Regions from separate parts of the Homo sapiens genome. Here region 2 is linked to region 1. A link means that fine-mapping ties the variant in region 1 to the plasma level of a protein whose gene starts in the linked region. Region 1 holds a variant in brackets. A gene starts in the other region. All regions are shown on their forward strands.

Region 1 (10,931 bases):
ATAGGGCACAAAAAGACGACATCATAAAGTAAAGGATTAATATCTTTGAATACCTTGAAATTCAAAGCATCTGTATGACAAATGCACTAATATCAAAGCAGAAAGACACAGACCAATAAAAATTATTTGCAAAAAAAAAAAAAAAAAAATAGAGAAAAAAACCAAGTGTGTAAAATAAATATGGTGGGGGAAAACCTAATTTTAGAATAGTCAAATTATTTAAACTGGCAATTTATGACAAAGGAGACAAAAATAGCCCACATACAGTAAGATTCCATTTCACATCTTTAAGAATTAGCATTAATAAGGTTCAAAAGATACCAAGTGTTAATGAGAATGTAAAGAAATGACAACCTTCATTTGCTGTTGGTGGGGGTTAAGATTGAAACACAATTTTTATGGCAATTTTGCAATAAGTTTAAATATGAAGAAATGTGCATGATTCCTATACACGACTCCTCTCTCAGGAAGACCATATAATTTAGGTAAGTTAACCTCATCCCTGGGTCTAGAGGTGAGGCATGTGGCTCAGTACTTACCTACTCAACATACATTCTTCTGTCTACCCGTACAGTAGCTACAGTACTTATGGGGGTGGGGAGTGCTAATTAGGCAAAAGCCAGGACTTTTATTTGATACACCCCTCCTTGCTGTTGGTGAACCAGGAAGCATGCATCCTTGGCAGCCAATAACAATAATTTCGAGACCAGTAGAGAAGGAGCTTGCCAAAATGGAGTAAATGCAGAACAATTAGAGCTGAGAAATGGAGAGAAAGCTATTCTAGGTCCTACCTTGAGTTATAAGATGAAGCTTCTCCTAAAATCAATTATCCCTGGACTATGCAATCACATGAATTAAACAAAAACAAAAACGAGCTTTGTCTTATGCTGCTGAAGTCATTTTAGGTTTTGTGTTGTATTGTGTTCTGTAGCTATACCCAGTAGCATCCTAAAATGAGTAGGATTGAACTGGCATAAGGGAAAGGAAAGATCACCTCAGGCAAGTAAGAAAGACAAATATCGTTTTATGGATATATTGTGCTTTGCTTTGAGTGTGTTCTCTCATTGTACCCTAGACTTCACAAGCATATTCTTTTTTACGCCTAATTATTACTGTTCCTTTCTTTTCGGGGTCATACACATCTTGCTTACCATTGTATCTACAGAGCCCAGCCCAGTGCCAGGAACATCATAGGTACTGGATAAATATTTGCTGGATCGATGTTAAGTGAAAATAATGCAGGGCTGGTAGGCAGAATCAAAACCAACAGTTAGCAGGATCCATACTGGGGAAAAACTGGCTGGGCATCACAGTCATTCCATGCACCAAGTGGCAGATTTGGGGGACTAGCCAGTGCAAAGTACCAGGAGAAGAGACACAGCTTAACAACATGATAAGAAACAGTAAGTTTGAGAATTCATTGACACATTCATTTATTCAAGAGGAAATGGGGATTCATACTTACATATGTATAGTTTACTTACTATGTGCCTGGAACTATTCTAAAGACTTTTTTTTTTTTCTTTTTCTTTATTTCTTTCTTTTTTCTTTTTTTTCTTTTCTTTTTTCTTTTTTTTCTTTTCTTTTTTTTTTTTTTTTTGAGACAGAGTCTTGCCCTGTCGCCTAGGCTGGAGTGCAGTGGCGTGACCTCGGCTCACTGCAAACTCCACCTCCTGGGTTCAAGTGATTCTCATGCCTCAGCCTCCCAAGTAGCTGGGACTACAGGTGTGCACCACCACACCTGGCTAATTTTCATATTTTTAGTAGAGACAGGGTTTTGCCATGTTGGCCAGGCTGGTCTTGAACTCCTGACCTCAAGTCATCCACCTGCCTCGGCCACTCAAAGTTCTGGGATTACAGGAATGAGCCACTGCGCCCAGCCAAGACTTGACTATTACCTCATTTAATTCTAATGATATCCATCCAGGTAATGTGATAGAGTCTAGCACTTAGGTGGTCAATTTACTGAGTGGTGGTTGTGGGATGAATGGATAAATCCAAAGTCTGTTCTTTTTACTGATCAAGTACTTCCCATAAACACTGACTGGGTGCTCCTTAAGAGCCAACAAAGTGGAAAGTGATTGAGGAAACAATGAGAATAATCCTGGGAGTTGATGCCTGGATTCATCTGGATTACCTTCCTCATAGTCTAATGTGCAGGATGCTTTGAAAGCCCCACCCAATACTCCTTACTAAGCTTAAATCATGGAGAGAATGATAAATATGTCCTATGTAGACACAAGGAATCTTTGACTAACACAGAATGAAGATTTTGGAAGATGATAGTAATAGACACCAGGAGAGCAGATAATGGGGTCAATTAAAATAATGGTAACTACTAACATTGATTTAAAAGGGTGAGGGGACTAGTTATAGCTTAGCAAGGAGGCTGTTTACATAATCAGATACTTGAGAATCTACTCTGGGTCTTGGCAACAGGACTAAGAAGTAACAAATACAGCCTCAAGAGATTCTATGAAAGGAATGTACTGGAGTTAGTGGCATTGCCACAGGCAATAGAACTTAAAGGATAGGAATGTGAATGGTAGAGTTGAACTTCAATGTGATTACCCCATCTCAACCACTTAGTCTTTAAGCTTGTTTCCCATCTGTAAAATGGGAATAATAATGAGGCTAATCTCATAGAGTTAGAGCGTGAAGAGCATTGTCTGGAATAGGATAAGTTTTTGATAAATTGTATCTGATGTCATTGTCCGTGTCTCTAAGAAAGAGCATGTATCAACAAGGATGAAACAATATAAACATAATTCGAGAAAACATGGCAAAAAGAAGAATTTGGGAGATGTAGATTTTGTCAGAAGAGGATCTACTTGCCGTTGGGTGTGATGAGTTTATATTTAGCACTTGTCTGCACTTACTATGTGCTTAGCTTTGGGTCAAGCTCAGAGATACTTAAAGGGAACTAACAGCATGCGATTTGCGGAGTCCTATAGGTCTGAGAAGCAATTGTGCATACAGGCTAATGGTTTTGGCTTTGGAGTCAGACTGTATAGTTTTGAAATCCTGTTCTTCCACTTAGTAGCATTTTATTTTTCTCTGTAACCCTCAGCTTTCTTTTCTAAAACAAAAGTGAGGGGTGGGGAAACAAATCCCTAGGATTTATGAGAGATTTAAAAGATCAAATGAGGCCGGGCACAGTGGCTCACGCCTGTAATCCCAACACTTTGGGGGGCCAAGGTGGGTGGATCACCTGAGGTAGGTAGTTTGAGACCAGCCTGACCAACACGGAGAAACCCTGTCTCTAATAAACATACAAAATTAGCCGGGTGTGGTGGTGCATGCCTGTAATCCCAGCTACTCAGGAAGGCTGAGGCAGGAGAATCACTTGAACTGGGAGGCGGAGGTTGCAGTGAGCCAAGATGGCGCCATTGCACTCCAGCCTGCCTGCAACAAGAGAGAAACTCCGCCTCAAAAATAAATAAATAAAAGATAAAATGAGAAAAGTACTTACCATTAATATCTGATATGTACCAAGACATTTGTAGGAGTAATAATAATGATAGTGTGAATATAGGTAACAGTAGTCATTGTAATAATGTTAACATCTGAATTACTGCCTATGGTCAGGTGACAGGCTCAGAATAATAATGTGCATTTTGCAGATGTTAATACAAAGATCAGAATGGAGCCATCGTCAAGGGCAGAGTTTTCCATAGGGAGATGGGTAGAGGGAAAACAACTGGGATCAGAAAGAAGGGGAAAAAGAAAAAGAGGATGGGCTGGCAGAAAGACAGGAATAGTTAATGTCTGAGAACTGAGGAAAGGTGATGATTCTAGAACAGGGAGCCAATAACATCTAATATCCAAGAGGTCAAAGAAATTGAGACCTCAGGCAAGATATGAGTGAGTTTTAAAAGGACAATTTAAAACTTACCATGATAAGGGCAGGAATGACCATAGATGGTTTCAGCAGGAAATGTGTTGATAGGAAAATTAAATTCATTGATACCTAAAAGTGCCACACAGGTAGGAGGACTATCAGGATGACAGGCAATGTGGCTTCACCCATGCATGAGACCTACTTGGCGTGACATCTCTGCTGGGCCACCTGCTCTGTGACCATGGGAGAGTGCTCCCCTTTCTTTCTCTCCCTTGCAGTTGTGTGCCCAGGGGGCTGAGTTATATCCAATGGGATGTGAGCTGAGTGATATGCAGCACTTTTAGGCCTGACCCAGAACATTCCATGAACAATTTTCCCTCTCTTTCTCTATTGCCAGCTGAATGGGAGGATAGAAACTTTCGTTCTATTAGTCCACTAATTTTTAAAGTCCTTTGTCACAGTGGTCAATTTACCCTGACTGGTGTAGTTAATAACTACTCTGAACCTCTGCTTCTCAGGCTAACAATAGCTACTTAGCTGATGGTTGTTCTTTCCGTTTTTGCCTGCTAATAGAATCTTAACGGTGATGAGTTAATTGGCATTCTTTTGCTTTACGAGAGTCTGTGTCCCTCCTCAGCGTTATCCATGGAATGGTGTGTGTGTGTGTGTGTGTGTGCGCGTGCACGTGTGTGTGTGCATGTGTGTGTGTGCATGTACGTGCACATGTGGGCATGTACTGGCCAATTTAAGCCAAGGGCAGCAGTTTTCCTCCCTTGCCTGTGAATATCTTAATAATGGACATGGGGTCAGTGATACATGGAGGGAAGTTCTCTAGTGGGCTTTTAGCAAATTTTCCTTGTTCTTGTTCTTAAAAAGGGGCTCGAAAACAGATTTTCATTTCCCATTTTAAATTTTGCATATTATTATGATGCCTGGAGCTACAGTAGCCACCTTGTTCATTGAGAGGAAACATCTGAAGGCAAAAGCCGACAGGCTGAAGAGGCGAGAATCCCAAGGTGTGGAGCCAATCCTGAAAGCATCCTACCATCACAAGTGTTTTAAGTGAGATAATAATATTGTCTTTTATTTATACCATTCTCAGTTGGTTCTTGTGTTCCTTATATCAAAAATACCCTGACCGATATTTTGGTTAGAATTACATCAATTAAAACATAAGAATCGAAAGCCATGTGGTAAGTGATCAAGTATGATATCATCAAAATAACCACCACAATCACCGTCAAAGCATGGACCTCCTGTCTCCCAACCTAGTGCCTCAGACCTTATTGCTTCCTGGGTCTCAACAGAAAAATAAAGTCTGTGACACAATATTTTCCAAGGGGTGGGAAAACAGCCTAGAAACACAACCAAAGAATTCTTTTTAGAACTTTTAGTTCTTTTGGAAACTGAGGTTGTGGAGGAGATTTCGTTATTGGTGGCATTGGGATGTATCGTTTAGATAATGAGATATTTGTTGGGTAAAGTGAAACCTTGGGATAACAGGTGCCCTATACAAATAAGGGTACTATTAGCTAGATAATATTTAACGAACACTCCCTCCTTATCACAAGCAATTCAAGACAATAGAATAGAATATTACAGTCGATGGTGGGGGAAACATAGAATCCTTACATTATTCCTACCAAATGATAAATACGGAAAGATGCAGAGCCCCTTGTCATCCTGCTTCCTGCCTTCATTCAGGTTATTCAGAAAGATGAGTGCAGCTTGAAGAAAGATAAGGCCAATGTAAGACAATCTGTACTGTGTTCATACTCCTAGAGCCCAATAAAGCAAATCAAATCAAATATATGTGATGAAGACCTAGATGAAATGAGAAGCTATTTTCATGCCATTGAATGAGGGTAAGATGATAAAAGATAATAATAGCATTGAGGAGAAGAAAGTGAAGCAGAAGGAGAAAGAACAGAGATGTTTCTTTGCTGTTTTCCTCTTTATTAATGTCTCTCACATGTCATTTTCTTGTAACATTCGATGCCCAAACAAATCAGCAAGGTAGCCTCCACTATCCATATTTAACAGATGAGGAAATTGACACTCAATGAAGTTCATTGACTTATCTGAGACCACAGCCAGATCTCTGAGTCCAAACAGCATATTGCTTTTTGCTCAACAACTTTGCTTTTCATTTTATTCTCTCTGGGATGAGAATCCTGAGTGACCTGCATTAGTCTTTTCTCACACTGCCAATAAAGACATACCTGAGACTGGGTGATTTATAATGAAAAAGAGGTTTAATGGACTCACAGTTCCACGTGACTGGGAGGCCTCACAAGCATGCTGGAAGGCAAAAGGCCCATCTTACATGGCAGCAGGCAAGAGAGAATGAGAACCAAGCAAAAAGGTTTTCCCCTATAAAACCATCAGATCTTGTGAGACTTTTTCACTACCACTAAAACAGTATGGGGGAAACTGCCCCTATGATTCAGTTATCTCCCACCAGTTTCCTTCCACAACACGTGGGAATTATGGGAGTTACAATTCAAGATGAGATGTGGGCGGAGACACAGCCAAACCACATCATGGCCTGATCTTCGGACTCAGAAATGACAGTCATCTTACCCTCCGAGGAGCTGGCTGCAACTCAG[G/A]AAGGTGCATCCATGAAGAGGCATGTTGGGTGAAGTAAGAAAACACCTTGCTTGGAAGGGAAGATCCCTGACTCAGGATTCTGATTTAACACTGTCTACACTTTGTAATCTGAGTGAAGTGACTAAACCTCTCTCAGCTTGTGTTTCTTTGAGTTTAAAAAGCAAAGAGCCTTCGTGACATTGTGTTTCTGATTATTTATTGTTTCTTCTGTTTTACCTCAGAAGACTGGTTGACCCTTGTTTAAAAACAAAACAAAAAGAAACTAACATAGGAAAGGGGCCTCCTGGCCCCTTGCTATTTATGCTTGTCCAATATAAGTGTTTTCCTAAAGTGCGTAAAGTACTTGTGAATGCCATTTTTTAGATATATGCTGTCAGTTCTAATTGCACAGAGCAGAACATTTTAGCCATGAGAGCTTCTCTGTGTCACAAACCTAGCATCCTGTAAAAGCAGGCCTACAAATGCTTTCACAAATCAACTCATTTCAGAATCAGGTCATTGGATGGTTGGATATATGGTTGGAACCACTTGGTTCCAAACTCTCCTGGCTCTATTCTTTTTTTGTGTGTGTGGAAAACAGATCTGCCAGGATTCTTCTGTATGCCTCAGACTAGAAACCCATCTAGACATCACACACATCTCTTAAGCTGATTTTAATTTCATTCTGTTGTGTGGTCCCAGCTTGCTGGATAGAAGTTCTTCCAGAACTATGTAGCCCAACACACTCTAGGTTAATGCAGAGCCTCCTCCCCACCCCGCTCCTGAAATGGTGCTTCTCCTGGGCTCTGGGCAGTAGCCATCCATTCACATGACAACCCACTTTTGTTTTGCAGGCACATAGGTTTTTCATTTATTCTGTAGAACAATCATGCATGTCAGACAAGGATTGACAGCTCCATTTTATGGGTAGAGAAACTGACTCAGAGAGCTTAGATAACCTGCCAAAGCTGATGGTGATACTCAGAGGTTAACCTAATCAGAAAGTAATTAACCTCCTTCTACTCTAATACATCTCTACAAATAATCCCAATTCACTTTCATCCTTGATGAAAATCTGATTTCTATGAAGCTTTGACTAAAACTTCTTTAACTTTACTTCATTTCATGATCCATTCCATTTATATGCCTCGGTTTCCTCATCTAATAAAAAAGCAAAAAGTAATTAGGCTGAGTTACCTATGCTTGGTCTGTTGAAGTAGTTTGAATTTTTCTGAATCAGGATGAATGCAAATTGCCTCATTATTTCACTAATTAATAATGTCTGCTTGGAAATGCAACTATCAGTGCACAATAAATGATAAAGCTTATAATTATAGATGAGAGCAATTGCTTCTTTTTTTGTTCTTACCTTCATTTCAGTTTATCTTCCTGAGCTATAGCTACCTCTGTAAGGGTTAGGAAAACATTTAAAATATCTAAACAGTGATTCCTTTCTCAAGCGTTCGGAAATTGATGAATCATCTTACTCTGCAGCATTCAAAGTAACTGTGTGCTTGACACATAGGAGGAAAAGTGGGCTCTTTGAAATGTGAGCAGAGCACCGATCGTGTCACCTGCCCGGCGCGTGACCTGTTCACTTTCCACCTGACCCTCTGTGCCCAATGTCACCTGGAGCCTGAAACCTGGAAGGGAAAAGTCCTTGACTGGAGTCAGTGGAGAGAAAATCATCACCTGCTTGGGCACAAACATGCCTGGTGACTGCGTCACTGTCTGTTAAGTGGGATCAGCTAATAGTTGCACAGCGGGCCTTCAAAGCATCACGGCAGAACTGATGAAGTTCCTGTAATGCATTCCCTGTGTGAAGGCCTTGGACTTTAGAGCTCAAGTGCGCCAGGAGCATTTTGAGCTTGCCGACAGGCTCTCCCATGGATTCTATTTGGTTATACGGCAGTGGAAAAGAATTGACTTTCATTTTCGTCACTCTCTGCCTGAGTCTCTCGACTGCAGCCACACTTCTGTTTCCCGTATATTGCATAGGCTATTCCCTCTACCTGGGACACCCTCCCCTCTGGATTGCAGCAAGATTTGCTTCTATGTTTCACTCAGTTATCTACTTACAAATCACCTCCTTAGGGACCTTGCAGGCTGCTCTCTTTCTCCTTACCTGGCTTCATTTTCCTTCACAGCACCTGATACTATTACACATATTTACTTAGTTAGTAGTCCATGCTTTTTCTTCCCCACTGGACCATAAGTTCTCTGAAGGCAAGAGCCACATTTGTGTTTTTCCACTGATCTGTCCTCAGTGTCTACAATAGTACTCAACCCACAATATAACCTTGAGAAACATTTCTTAAAGAAGTGAATAAATGAACGAGTGAAGGAGTGATTTTTTTCTCATTTTACAAATGAAACAAGTCAAAAACAAAGAGGGGAAGTAAGCTAGTCCAGCTCTACAACCATTTAGTGGCACAGCTAGTATTAACATTTTGATTTCCTAACTCACAATCTAGGATTTTATTTTCGTTTTATTCCATACAACACTGTTCTCCAGAAATTTGGCAACTCAGACGGCACTTGACTTTTCACAAACACATTTCTTGCTGTCTTTAACCTGTTCATGTCAATGAGAATGACTATAACCTCATGAGAGACAAGTGTTTACTAGTTAAGTTCTTACTGAAGTGATTGGTCTTAGAACTCCCTTTCAAGGGCAAAGACGATTGAAAATTAGTTATACAATTACATTTTTAAAACATTTTTGAGTATAATGATTTTAAGCATTTGTTGTATAAAGGTGGATATGCATAAAGAACAGGTAAAAATAATAATCATTATAATCATATATAGAAGTCGTCTTGGTACATTTTAAACATATTTAACAATTGGAATCCTGCTGTATGCCGAGTTTTCTATCTCTGTTTATACACATTATATTTTAAACATTTTTCTAATGTCACTAAAACTAACATTGTTTTAGGGATAGTATTTCAATATATAAGTGTGTCACAATTTCACAGTTTTAGTTGATCATTTTCCTCTTATTTATCATTAAGATTGTTTCCACTTTTTATTTATTGGGTTTCTAGGTTTTAGTCCTTCATATTTCTGGGTTCAGTTATTCTATAAACATTTTCAAAACTATGCAGAAAATAAATTGTCCAAGTTTGTACTTAAAGTGCTACAAATAATCTAAAAAAAAAATCAGGGTTTCAAGCTCAAAGCTTCTCTTCAAATCAATAACTGTTGAAGATTTCACTTATTTGCATTTTTAGTCTTTGAGGTTTAGAGTGGAGGGTGGGGATCCGGGGGCAGTGGGACAGGAAACATTGACCAATTTGAGAACAAATAGAGGCTTGGAAAATTTGTTTACATTCTGTTCTATGTGTGATTCTGGCCTTTGTAACAAGGAGGATAAAAAGCCAGAACTCACTTTGGTGGCGCCTGCAGACCTCTGCACTGTAATGACACGAGTGCAAGCTGCACTGGGTGCAAGTCAGCATGACTCAGCCACCCTCCCCACGGGGTGAGAGGAAGCAGTGGTGGAAGGCCAGCACTTGTTCCTACCTCCGCATGTACAGTGGTGAAGAGAAGGCTCACAAAGGGTTTCTCAATCTGAGAAGGAACCCTGTATTCAGAGTGCAGCTTAACCCAATGGGATATTCCAGCTATAATTCTAATAAGGGTGATGGTCCCACTACATACCTAGCATATTTATGAATCTCAAATTGATGCCACCTCTTGTACCTTGCACAAGTAATAATCACTGCCATTGATCTGGCACCTCCTACGTGACAGCTTACTAACCTAGGCACTTTCAGCTGGTCAACTAATTTAATTCTCAAAACAAGTTTGCCAGGCAAGTATTATTGGCTGCATTTTCCAGATAAAGACATTGAAGTTTCTAATGAACTTCAGGTAAAGTTTATTCCAGATAAACTTCACTGAGGTTCATGCTGTCCAAAGTCACACAGCGCTGGGATTTAATACTGGTCTATTTGTCTTCAAAGCCTATGCATTACTGCACACCTATGAGGTTCTGCAGAGAAAAGGTTCCTCCTTCTGCTCAGTACCTGCAATTCTAGGGACAGTTGTCATGGAAAAAACTGTATTAGAATAATCTATTGATCAATAATCTCATTGACTAGCTATTTAATGAGCACTTACTTTGTGCCAGGCTCTCTACTAGTTTCCACTGACAGAGTTGAATAGAACACATTTCTGATCATAAAACGGGAGGAGGGCGAGATTCGAAGGGCAGGATTGTGAGATACATAAGCCTCCACTCTCAGGACATAGAATACTCTATTCACCACAGGGATTAGCTCGTCACAGAAACTCAATAATATTTGTGGAAGAAGACAAAGATCAAAGGATGGGTGATAAATTATAAGGCGCTTAAAACTTAGTCTAAATACTTGGAATCTATTCTCAGGTTTATTCTGTATTCACTGTGCAACTTTTGGAAGTTTTGTGTAGCCCCCTAAGCCTGCCTCCTTACTTTTAAAAGTGGAGATAAACATCTTTGTCTGATTTCACT
Region 2 (10,877 bases), not on the chromosome of region 1:
TTAGCTCAGGCAATCTGAGTTCAGACTTGCAGGTTGAAAAAGTGCCAGCCTTGAGGGAACCCCAATAGAGGAGCCCTTAAGCCCCACTGGGAACCTCGAATTGAGACTGCGGGGCTGGCCATCCCTGTTTGCTGTGGCCTGTGGCCCCCATTCCAGAGGAGTGAGATCTTAGCTCACTTGGGAGAGAAAGGCGGGTGGAGCCGGGGAGACTTGCCTACCTGTGAGCAGCACAGCTAGCACAAGGAGTTTCATCTTGCAGTCAAGGTGAGAAAAGAACTGAGATGACCAGTCTCAGGTATAGTCTTATAGTCAGTCTCCACACAACCCTGCCCAGATAAGGCTGGAGTGTTTGCTTTGCTCTTGGCTGAGTTTGGGGCTGGCCTTGAATCTGTCTGTTGCAGGAATGACCCTGACGATTTGCCAGCATGGGATCACTGGAAAATATGTTATGCATTTGTCCTTAGCAACTGTTAACCAAAGGGATGGTTTCTGGAGTTTTCAGATCTTACAATCTTGACCCTCATACCCACCACTTTGTACTCAGCCCAGCTTCACGGGCTGGTTGGGGAAAGCAAAGCCGTCAGTTCAGTCGGACGCTGGGATAAGGGAGACAAGAAGGAAGTGCAGCCTGGGCAACATAGAGAGACCTCATCTCTAAAAAAAAAAATGTTAACCAGGTGTGGTGGTGGATTGCACCTGTGATCCCAGCAACTCAGGAGGCTGAGATGGGAGGATCTCTTGAGCCAGGGAGGTCAAGGCTGCAATGAACAGTGATTGAGCCTCTGCAGCAGAGTGAGACCCTATTTCAAAAAAAAAAAAAAAAAAAGAAAGAAAGAAAAAAGATCGCTGCCTGCAGCCTCAATGTCTTATCAAGTGCCTGAATCTGTGCACTGGGTCTGGTTGAATAGTCCCATCAGTCGTGCACCTTGCAGATAAAGAGACAGGTTCAGAGAGTTGCGGTAACTTGCCCAAGGTCACACAGTTGGCAAATGACAAAATAGGGCTCCAGTTTAGATCTGTCTGATTCCAAGGCAGAGGTTTTATTTTTTTCCACCACTCCGCTCTGCAGTGTGGGTTTGTGAGAAAAACCTGGGCTTTGGATTCCAAAGGCCTGAGTCTGAATTATAGAATACTAAAGGGCATTAGAACTGTCATATCAGAGGCCAGGCACGGTGGCTCATGCCTGTAATCCCAGCACTTTGGGAGGCTGAGGCTGGCAGATCACCTGAGGTGGAGAGTTCGAGACCAGCCTGACCAACATGGAATAACCCTGTCTCTACTAAAAACACAAAATTAGCCAGGCATGGTGGCTTATGCCTGTAATCCCAGCTACTCCGGAGGCCGAGGCAGGAGAATGGCTTGAACCCTGGAGGCGGAGGTTGCGGTGAGCTGAGATCACGCCATTGCACTCCAGCCTAGGGAACAAGAGCAAAACTCCATCTCAAAAAAAAACCTGTCACATCACATATCTATTTATTTATATATATTTTTTGAGACGGAGTCTTGCTCTGTTGCCTAGGCTGGAGTGCAATGGCGCGATCTTGGCTCACTGCAAGCTCTGCCTCCCAGGTTCATGCCATTCTCCTGCCTCAGCCTCCCAAGTAGCTGGGACTACAGGCACCCACCACCACGCCCGGTTAATTTTTTTTTTTGTATTTTTAGTAGAGATGGGGTTTCACCGCATTAGCCAGGATGGTCTCGATCTCCTGACCTCGTGATCCACCTGCCTCGGCCTCCCAAAATGCTGGGATTACAGGCGTGAGCCACCGCGCCCGGCCAAATATCTACATAACATTGTTTAGCTGAAATTCACATAACATTAACCACGTTTAAGTAAACAATTCGGGGGCATTTAGTACCTTCACAGTGTTGTGCAACCATCACCTCTATGGGGTTCCAGAACATTTTTATCACTCCAGAAGGAAACCCTGTACCCATTAGCAGTCACACTCCCTCAGCCCCTGGTAACTGCTAATCTGCTTCTCTCTCTCTCTCTCTTTTTTTTTTGAGACAGAGTTTCGCTCTTGTCGCCCAGGCTGGAGTGCAATGGCACGATCTCGGCTTACTGCAACCTCCGCCTCCCAGGTTCAAGCGATTCTCCTGCCTCAGCCTCTCGTGTAGCTGGGAATTACAGGCGCCTGCCAGCATGCCTGGATAATTTTTGTATTTTTAGTAGAGACAAGGTTTCACCATGTTGGTCAGGCTGGTCTCAAACTCTTGACCTCAGGTGATCCACTCCTCAGCCTCCCAAAATGCTGGGATTATAGGCATGAGCCACTGTGCCTGGCCTCTGATCTGCTTCTCTCTATATAGATTTATAATTGGTTAACTTGGTGCTCTTCTGTTCCTATGTCACCTCTACAACAACCCTGTGGGATAAGGAGGGCCTGGTTATTTAATTTATTTATCTGTTTTTTTTTTTTGAGACAAAGTGTCGCTCTGTTTCCCAGACTGATGTGCAGTGACACGATCATAGTTCACTGCAGCCTCAACCTCCTGGGCTCAAGCAATCCTCCCACCTTAGCCTCCCGATTAGTGGGGACTACAGACATGTGTCACCACACCTGGCTAATTTAAAAAAATTTTTTGGGCCAGGCACGGTGGCTCATACCTGTAATCCCAGCACTTGGGGAGACCGAGGCAGGCGGATCACGAGGTCAGGTGATGGAGACCATCCTGGCTAACACAGTGAAACCTTGTCTCTACTAAAGATACAAAAAATAAGCTGGGCATGGTGGCGGGTGCCTGTAATCTCAGCAACTTGGGAGGCTGAGGCAGAAGAATGGCGTGAACCCAGGAGGCAGAGTTTGCAGTGAGCCGAGATCACGCCACTGTACTCCGGCCTGGGCGACACAGCGAGACTCTGTCTCAAAAAAATTTTTGGAGACACGGCGTCTCCCTATGTTGCCCAGGCTGGTCTTGAACTCCTGGCCTCAAGTGATCCTCCCATCTAAGCCTCCCAAAGCATTGGGATCACAGGCGTGAGCCACTGTGCCCAGCAACCTTGATAGTTTTGAGGAGTATTGGTCAGGATGACCCTCTCTTGGAATTTGTGTGTGTGTGTGTGTGGGTGTGTGTGTGTGTGTTTGTTGTAGTCTCACTCTGTCGCCCAGGCTGGAGTGCAGTGGCACAATCTCGGCTCACTGCAATCTCTGTCTCCCAGGTTCAAGTGATTCTTGTGCCTCAGCCTCTGAGTAGCTGGGATTACAGGCACGTGCCACCACGCCCAGCTAATTTTTATTTATTTATTTTTATTTATTTTTGAGACGGAGTCTCACTCTGTCACCAGGCTGGAGTGCAGTGGCGCGATCTCAGCTCACTGCAACCTCTGCCTCCCGGGTTCAAATGATTCTCCTGCCTCAGCCTCCCGAGTAGCTGGGACTACAGGTGCACACCACTGCGTCCAGCTAATTTTTGTATTTTTAGTAGAGACGGGGTTTCACCATGTTGGCCAGGATGGTCTTGATTTCTTGACCTCATGATCTGCCCGCCTCAGCCTCCCAAAGTGCTGGGATTACAGGCGTGAACCACTGCACCTGGCTCTCTATTGGAATTGTCCTGTGTTTTTCTCATAATTAGATTACAGTTATGGGTTTGGGGGAGGAAGACCACAGAGGCAAAGTGCCATTTCATCACATGGCTGCTTTATGTTTAATCATCTCTTTTCTGGGCCGGGCGTGGTGGCTCATGCCTGCAGTCCCAGCACTTCGGGAGGCCGAAGCGGGTGGATCACCTGAGGTCAGGAGATCGAGACCATGGTGAAACCCCATCTCTACTAAAAATACAAAAAATTAGCCGGGCGTGGTGGCGGGTGCCTGTTGTCCCAGGTACTCCCGAGGCTGAGGCAGGAGAATGGCGTGAACCCGGGAGGCGGAGCTTGCAGTGAGCCGAGTGCCACTGCACTCCAGCCCGGGTGACAGAGTGAGACTCTGCCTCAAAATAAATAAAAAAAAAATAAAAATAAAAATGAAATACCATTAAAAGTTCAGTTTCTCAGTCACAATGGCCACATTTCAAGGCTCATAGACACATGTGGCGAGTGGCTGCCAGATTGGCAGCCACAGAATGTTTCCATGATCACAGAAGGTTCTGTTGGACAGGGCTGCTGTGGATTGTCACAGAGCCTGTCTCAGGGCTGCCCCATGGGAGGTGGGGGCTATGAGGACTAATGGAGGGGGACTTGGTTAGGTCAGAATCCCACATCAGCTTGACTGAATGGTCCTGCCTCTGCAGCCCCAGAATGAGTGGAGTCTGCCCAAGCAAAGGGAAGCCTTGCCCAGCAAAATGTTCAGTCCCTCTTATGTGGGTTCCTTGGGGTCATAACAAGACAGAGGACCAGGCACTGCTCCTAGGTTTAGGCCTGAAGGATGCTAAGTGGGTGATTGGGGGTGGCTCAAAGAAGGAGAAGCAGCTATGGTTGCAAGTAAAGTTATTAATTACCCTTTTTTTCCAGGCTGGAGTGCAGTGGTGCAATCTTGGCTCACTGCAACCTCCACCTCCCAGGTTCAAGTGATTCTTCTGCCCCAGCCTCCTGTGTAGCTGGGACTATAGGCAAGTGCCACCACACCTGGCTAATTTTTGTATTTTTATTAGAGATAGTGTTTTGCCATGTTGGCCAGGCTGGTCTCAAACTCCTGCTCTCAAGTGATCCACCCAACTCGGTCTCCCAAAGTGCTGGGAATACAGACATGAGCCACCGCACCTGGCTAATGAGTTACTATTAACTGAGCGCTAACTCCATCCCAGGTCCCATATGCTAAGAACCTGGCACAAAGGTCGAGGTAGGTCCAGTACAAACTTCATTTTACAGAGAAGACAGCTGAGGCTGAGAGAGGTTAAGTGACTGCCCCAGAGTCACACATCAGGACCAAGATATGAGTTCGATCTGGTTCTCATGCTACCATCTCAGGCTAGGGAGTACTGAAAGTCCCTTGAGGAAGGAAGAGATTCAGTCCAACCTACGACTTCCCTCCTTCCCCAGCCCATGAAAGCCTTCCTAAGAACAATCTGGACAAACTCCACGTGCTGGAGTTTAGGCAAAGCACCTGGTGGGGAGGGGGTCCGGCCGCTGCCACAACCCTCTCCCCCTGGAAAGAGACATGCTCACTGTGACAGCCCAGACCTCTGTGGCTCCTGCCACAAAGGTGACAGTATAAGGGACCTGGAAGGGCACTAGGTAGCTCCCCAAGCCCCTACACTCTTTGTACCTTGACCTTCCACCACCCCAGATCCCTGCACAGGTGTGCGAAGCACAGCCTCTCCCAGCCTGGGAAAAACACACTCTTCAGTGGAAAGAACAGCTAAGCATAGCTGCTTGGCCCCTTCAGGTGAGGGCGTACCCACGCTTCAGCAAGGCCACATCTACTTGGCTTCTTTTTTTTTTTTTTTTTTTTTTTGAGATGGAGTTTCGCTCTTGTTGCCCAGGCTGGAGTACAATGGCGTGATCTCAGCTCACCGCAACCTCCGCCTCCCAGGTTCAAGCAATTCTCCTGCCTCAGCCTCCTGAGTAGCTGGGATTACAGGAAGGCACCACCACACCCAGCAAATTTTGTATTTTTAGTAGAGATGGGGTTTCTCCATGTTGAGGCTGGTCTCGAACTCCTGACCTCAGGTGATCCGCCCGCCTCGGCCTCCCAAAGTGCTGGGATTACAGGCGTGAGCCACCGCACCCGGCCAGGTCTATTTGGCTTCTAAAGGATAGGGCTCCTGTTTCTAGGAAGTGCTTAACAGCAGCTACCAGCTACCATCTGCTGAGTGTTTCTATACGCTTGGCACTGTGCTAGCACTGTGCTTTACATATGTTGTCTTTCAGCCTAACAACACTCTTCTGATATAGTTATTATTACTGTGATAGTTGTCATCATCTTCCCCATCTTATAGATAGATGATGAAGCAGTTTCAGAGAGTGTAAGTAACTTGCTCAAAGTCACATGGCTAGAAAGTGGAGAAAAAATTTGAACCTGTGTCTACCTGCCTCTGATTCCTGCTCTCTCCAATGATAACAACAGCAGCAATTAACATGCTGTGAGGCTGTGCTAGGAAGGATACTAAGAGCCTTGTATAGGCTAGCCCACCATCAGGTGCCAATGAGCAAAATGAGGCAGTATACCGGTGTAACTAAACCTTTTCCACTCCCAAAGCCACCATCTTCAGTGTCAGGATCTTCCTGACAGCCTCCTAACTGCTATAATGGCACTGTCTACCTCCATCTCTCCGGAGAAGGGATAGTGTAGCCAGTGGCTCCCAAACTTGACTGATCCCTGGACTCCCCTGGAAAACTTAAAGAGTGATATAGTCCAGGCATGATGGCTCAAGCTTATAATCCCAGCTATTCTGGAAGCTGAGGCAGGAGGATTGCTTGAGTCAGGAATTCAAGGCCACATTGTGCTATGATTGTATCACTCTACTCCAGCCTGGGCAACAGAGGGAGACCCTGTTTCAAAAAAAAAAAAAAAAGGTAATACAGATTATTGGAATGTAAGATGTGCAGGTTGGGTATAAGGATCTGAAATCTGTGGTCTCTCTCTCTTTTTTTTTTTTGAGACGATGTCTGGTTCTGTCACCCAGGCTGGAGTGCAGTGGTGCAATCTCGGCTCACTGCAACCCCTGCCTCCCAGGTTCAAGTGATTCTCCAGCCTCAGCCTCCCAAGTAGCTGGGATTACAGGCATGCGCCATCACGCTTGGCTAATTTTTTTGTATTTTTAGTAGAAATGGGGTTTCGCCATGTTGGCCAGGTTGGTCTTAAACGTTTGACCTCAGGTGATCTGCCCGCCTTGGCCTCCCAAAGTGCTGGGATTACAGGCATGAGCCACCGTGCCCAGCCGCTCTTTTTTATTTAAATTTTTTTTCAGCAGGCCAGGCATGGTGGCTCACGCCTGTAATCCCAGCATTTTGGGAGGCCGAGGCCAGCGGATCACCCGAGGTTGGGAGTTTGAGACCAGCCTGACCAACATGGAGAAACCCCGTCTCTACTAAAAATATAAAAATTAGCCGGGTGTGGTGGTGCATGCCTGTAATCCCAGCTACTTGGGAAGCTGAGTCAGGAGAACCGCTTGAACCCGGGAGGCAGAGGTTGCCGTGAACCAAGATCGCATCATTGCACTCCAGCCTGGGCAACCAGAGTGAAACTCCATCTCGAAAAAAAAAAATTTTTTTTTCTAGGTGATTCTGATAGTTATGTAGTTTTAAACCACTGTTTTTTTGTTTTTTTGTTTTTTTTTTTGAAATGACTATTGGGTTGGATAGAGGTTACTGGGTGTTATTATGCTTTAAAACTCAAATATACTATATATTTTTTCTCTTCTTTTTTTTTTTTTTTGAGAACACCATGGGGGAAAACGCCCCCATAATCCAATCACCTTCCACCAGGTCCTTTCTTCCACACTTGGGGAATACAATTTGAGATGAGATTTTGGTGGGAAAACAGAGCCAAACCATATCATTCCTCCTTGGCTCCTCCCAAATCTTATGTCCTTTTCACATTTCAAAATCAATCATGCCTTCCCCACAGTCCTCCAAAGTCTTAATTCATTCCAGCAATAACCCAAAAGTCCAAGTTTAAAGTCTCATCTGAGACAAGGTAAGTCCCTCCACCTATGAGTCTGTAAAATAAGAAACAAGTTGGTTACTTCCAAGAAACAACGCAGATACAGGCATTGGGTAAATGTTCCCATTCCAAATGAGAGAAATTGGCCAAAACAAAGGGGTCACAGGCCCCATGCAAGTCCGAAACCCAGCAGTGCGGTCATTAAACCTTAAAGCTCTGAAATGATCTCCTTTGACTGCATGTCTCACATCCAGGGCACACTGTGTGGGCGACAAGCCACCCAGGCGCCGAGGCAAGAGACTGAGGACATGAGCTGTTCCAGTATAATAAAATATAAAACAAGAATAGTTATACTAGATATAGATCTTAGATATGATTATATATGAATATCAATAATCATTAGTTGGTAGCAATGACTCTTTATTCCAATATTATAATAATCCTCGCTCTATAATCATAACTTAGGAAAAACCAGACCATGCAGAGATGGGAGCTGAGGGGACATAGTGAGGTGTGACCGGAAGACAAGAGTGCGAGTCTTCTGTTATGCCCGGACAGGGCCACCAGAGGGCTCCTTGGTCTAGCGGTAACGCCAGTGTCTGTGAAGACGCCCGTTGCCAGGTGGACCGTGGTCTAGTGGTAGCATAAGTGTCAAGGGAAAACACCCACTGCTTAGCAGACCGGGAAAGGGAGTCTCCCTTTCCCTGGGGGAGTTTAGAGAAGACTCTACTCCTCCACCTCTTGTGGAGGGCCTGACATTAGTCAGGCTCGCCCATGGTTATCTGGAGGCCTAACCGTCTCCCTGTGATGCTGTGCTTCAGTGGTCACGCTCCTAGTCCGCCTTCATGTTCCATCCTGTACACCTGGCTCTGCCTTCTAGATAGCAGTAGCAAATTAGTGAAAGTACTAAAAGTCTCTAATAAGCAGAAACAATGGCGTAAGCTGTCTCTCTCTCTCCCTCTCTCTCTCTGCCTCGGCTGCCAGGCAGGGAAGGGCCCCCTGTCCAGTGGACACGTGACCCACGTGACCTTACGTATCATTGGAGATGACTCGCACTCTTTACCCTGCCCCTTTTGCTTTGTATCCAATAAATAACAGTGCAGCCAGACATTCAGGGCCACTACCGGTCTCCGTGACTTGGTGGTAGTGGTTCCCCGGGCCCAGCTGTCTTTTCTTTTATCTCTTTGTCTTGTGTCTTTATTTCTACACTCTCTCGTCTCTGCACATGGGGAGAGACCCACTGACCCTGTGGGGCTGGACCCTACACACTGATGTAAGGGGTGGGTTCCTAAGGCCTAAGGCAGCTCCATCCTGTGGCTTTGCAGGGTACAGCCCCCATGGCTGCTTTCAGGGGCTATGTACCTGTGGCTTTTCCAGGCACATGGTGTGAGCTGTCAGTGGATCTACCTTTCTGGGGTCTGGAAGATGATGGCCCTCTTCTCAGCTGCACTAGGCAATGCCCCAGTGGGGATTTTGTGTGGGGGCTCCAACCCCACGTTTCCCTTCTGCACTGCCCTAGCAGAGGTTTTCCATGAGGGCTCTGCCCCTGCAGCAGACTTCTGCCTGGACATCCAGGCATTTTCATATGTATTAGTCCATTTTCATGCTGCTGATAAAGACACTTCTGAGGCTGGGAAGAAAAAAAGATTTAACGGACTTACACTTCCACATGGCTGAGGATGCTTCACAATCATGGCAGAAAGTGAAAGGCATGTCTCACATGGTGGCAGGTAAGAGAAGAGACCTTGTGTAGGGAAACTCCCCCTTATAGAATCATCAGATCTTATGAGACTTATTCACTATCATGAGAACAGCACAGGAAAGACCTGCCCCCATTATTCAATTACCTCACACCAGGTCCCTCCCACAACACGTGGGAATTCAAGATGAGATTTGGGTGGGGACACAGCCAAACCATATCACCATACATCCTCTAAAACCTAGACAGAGGTTCCCAAACCTCAACTCTTTTCTTCTGCACACCTGCAGGCCTATCACCACATGGAAGCTGACAATGCTTGTGGCTTGCACCCTCTGAAGCAATGGCCCGAGCTGTACCTTGGCTCCTTTTAGCCACAGCTGGAGCTGGAGTGGCTGGGATGCAGGGCACCATGTCTGGGGGCTACACAGAGCAATGGAGCCCTGGATCTGACCCACGAAACCATTTTTCTGTCCTAGGCCTCTGTGCCTGTGATGGTAGGGGCTGTCATGAAGATTTCTGATGTGCCTTGGAGACATTTTCCCCCATGGTCTTGGCCATTAACACATTTGGCTTTTTGTTACTTATGCAAATTTCTGCAGCTGGCTTGAATCCCCAGAAAATGGGTTTTTCTTTTCTACCACATGGTCAGGCTGCAAGTTTTCCAAACCTTTATGCTCTGCTTCCCTTTTAAACATAAGTCCCAATTTCAAACCATCTCTTTGTGAATGCACATGATAGAATGCTTTCAGAAAAGGCCACTCACCTCTTGAATGCTTTTTTGCTTAGAATTTTTCTTCTGCCAGATAACCTAAATAATCTCTCTCAAGTTCAAAGTTCCACAGATCTCTAGGGCAGGAGCAAAATGCCACCAGTCCCTTTGCTAAAGCATAGCAAGAATGACCTTTGCTCCAGGACCAAGTAAATTCCTCATCTCCATCTGAGACCATCTCAGCCTGGACTTCATTATCCATATCACTATCAACATTTTGGTCAATACCATTCAACAAGTCTCTAAGAAGTTCCAAGCTTTCCCACATCTTCCTGTCTTCTTCTGAGCCCCCCCTAAACTGTTCCGACCTCTGCCTGTTATCCAATTCCAAAGTCACATCTACAAGTTTCAGGTTATCTGTATAGCAGTACACCTAGCAGAGGTTCCCCATGAGGGCTCTGCCCCTGCAGCTGACTTCTGCCTGGACATCCAGGCATTTTCACATGTATTAGTCAGTTTTCATGCTGCTGATAAAGACGTACCTGAGACTGGGAAGAAAAAAAGATTTAATGGATTTATAGTTACACCTGGCTGGGGAGGCCTCACAATCATGGCAAAAGTTGAAAGGCATGTCTCACATGGTGGCAAGACAAGAGAAGAGACCTTGTGTAGGAAAACTCCCCCTTATATAATCATCGGATCTCATGAGAGCTGGTACCAATTCTCTGTATTAGTCTGTTCTCACACTGCTATAAAGATACTACCTGAGACTGGGTAATTTATAAAGAAAGGAGGTTTGATAGTTCCACATGGCTGGGAAGCCTCAGGAAACTTACAATCATGGCAGAAGGCAAAGGGGAAGCAAAGCACATCTTACATGGCAGCAGGAGAGAGAGAGCAGAGTGGGGAGTGTTACTTT

Which allele goes with the higher level. Alleles are on the strand shown, and positions count from the first base shown. The strength of an association depends on the size of the effect and on how common the allele is.
In carriers of allele A in region 1, the plasma level of the protein whose gene starts at base 278 in region 2 tends to be lower than with G alone (moderate association).

The links. A credible set is the group of variants that fine-mapping cannot tell apart. PIP is the posterior inclusion probability: the model's chance that the variant is causal. Protein levels are from antibody-based Olink assays in UK Biobank. Linkage for the fine-mapping came from a reference panel and not from the study's own genotypes, which makes the PIPs less certain.
Region 2: it holds the start of PLA2G1B, and the variant in region 1 is the best candidate, but not a certain one, in a credible set for the plasma level of the PLA2G1B protein (UK Biobank, PIP 0.61).

What each region holds. Positions count from the first base shown.
Region 1 is chr8:128,546,966-128,557,896 of GRCh38, forward strand. All of the region lies in intron 2 of LINC00824 (long intergenic non-protein coding RNA 824), which reads right to left. Among named protein-coding and RNA genes, the nearest start is that of LINC00824, 12 kb to the right of the region's middle. RefSeq lists enhancers at 7,574-8,773, 8,218-8,512, 9,826-9,970 and a cis regulatory region at 9,893-9,903. The variant G/A (reference allele first, on the strand shown) is at 6,451.
Region 2 is chr12:120,327,502-120,338,378 of GRCh38, forward strand. It overlaps PLA2G1B (phospholipase A2 group IB), which reads right to left and starts at 278. Exons shown (of 4, transcript NM_000928.3): 1 at 219-278. The coding sequence starts at 252. RefSeq lists an enhancer at 8,306-8,375.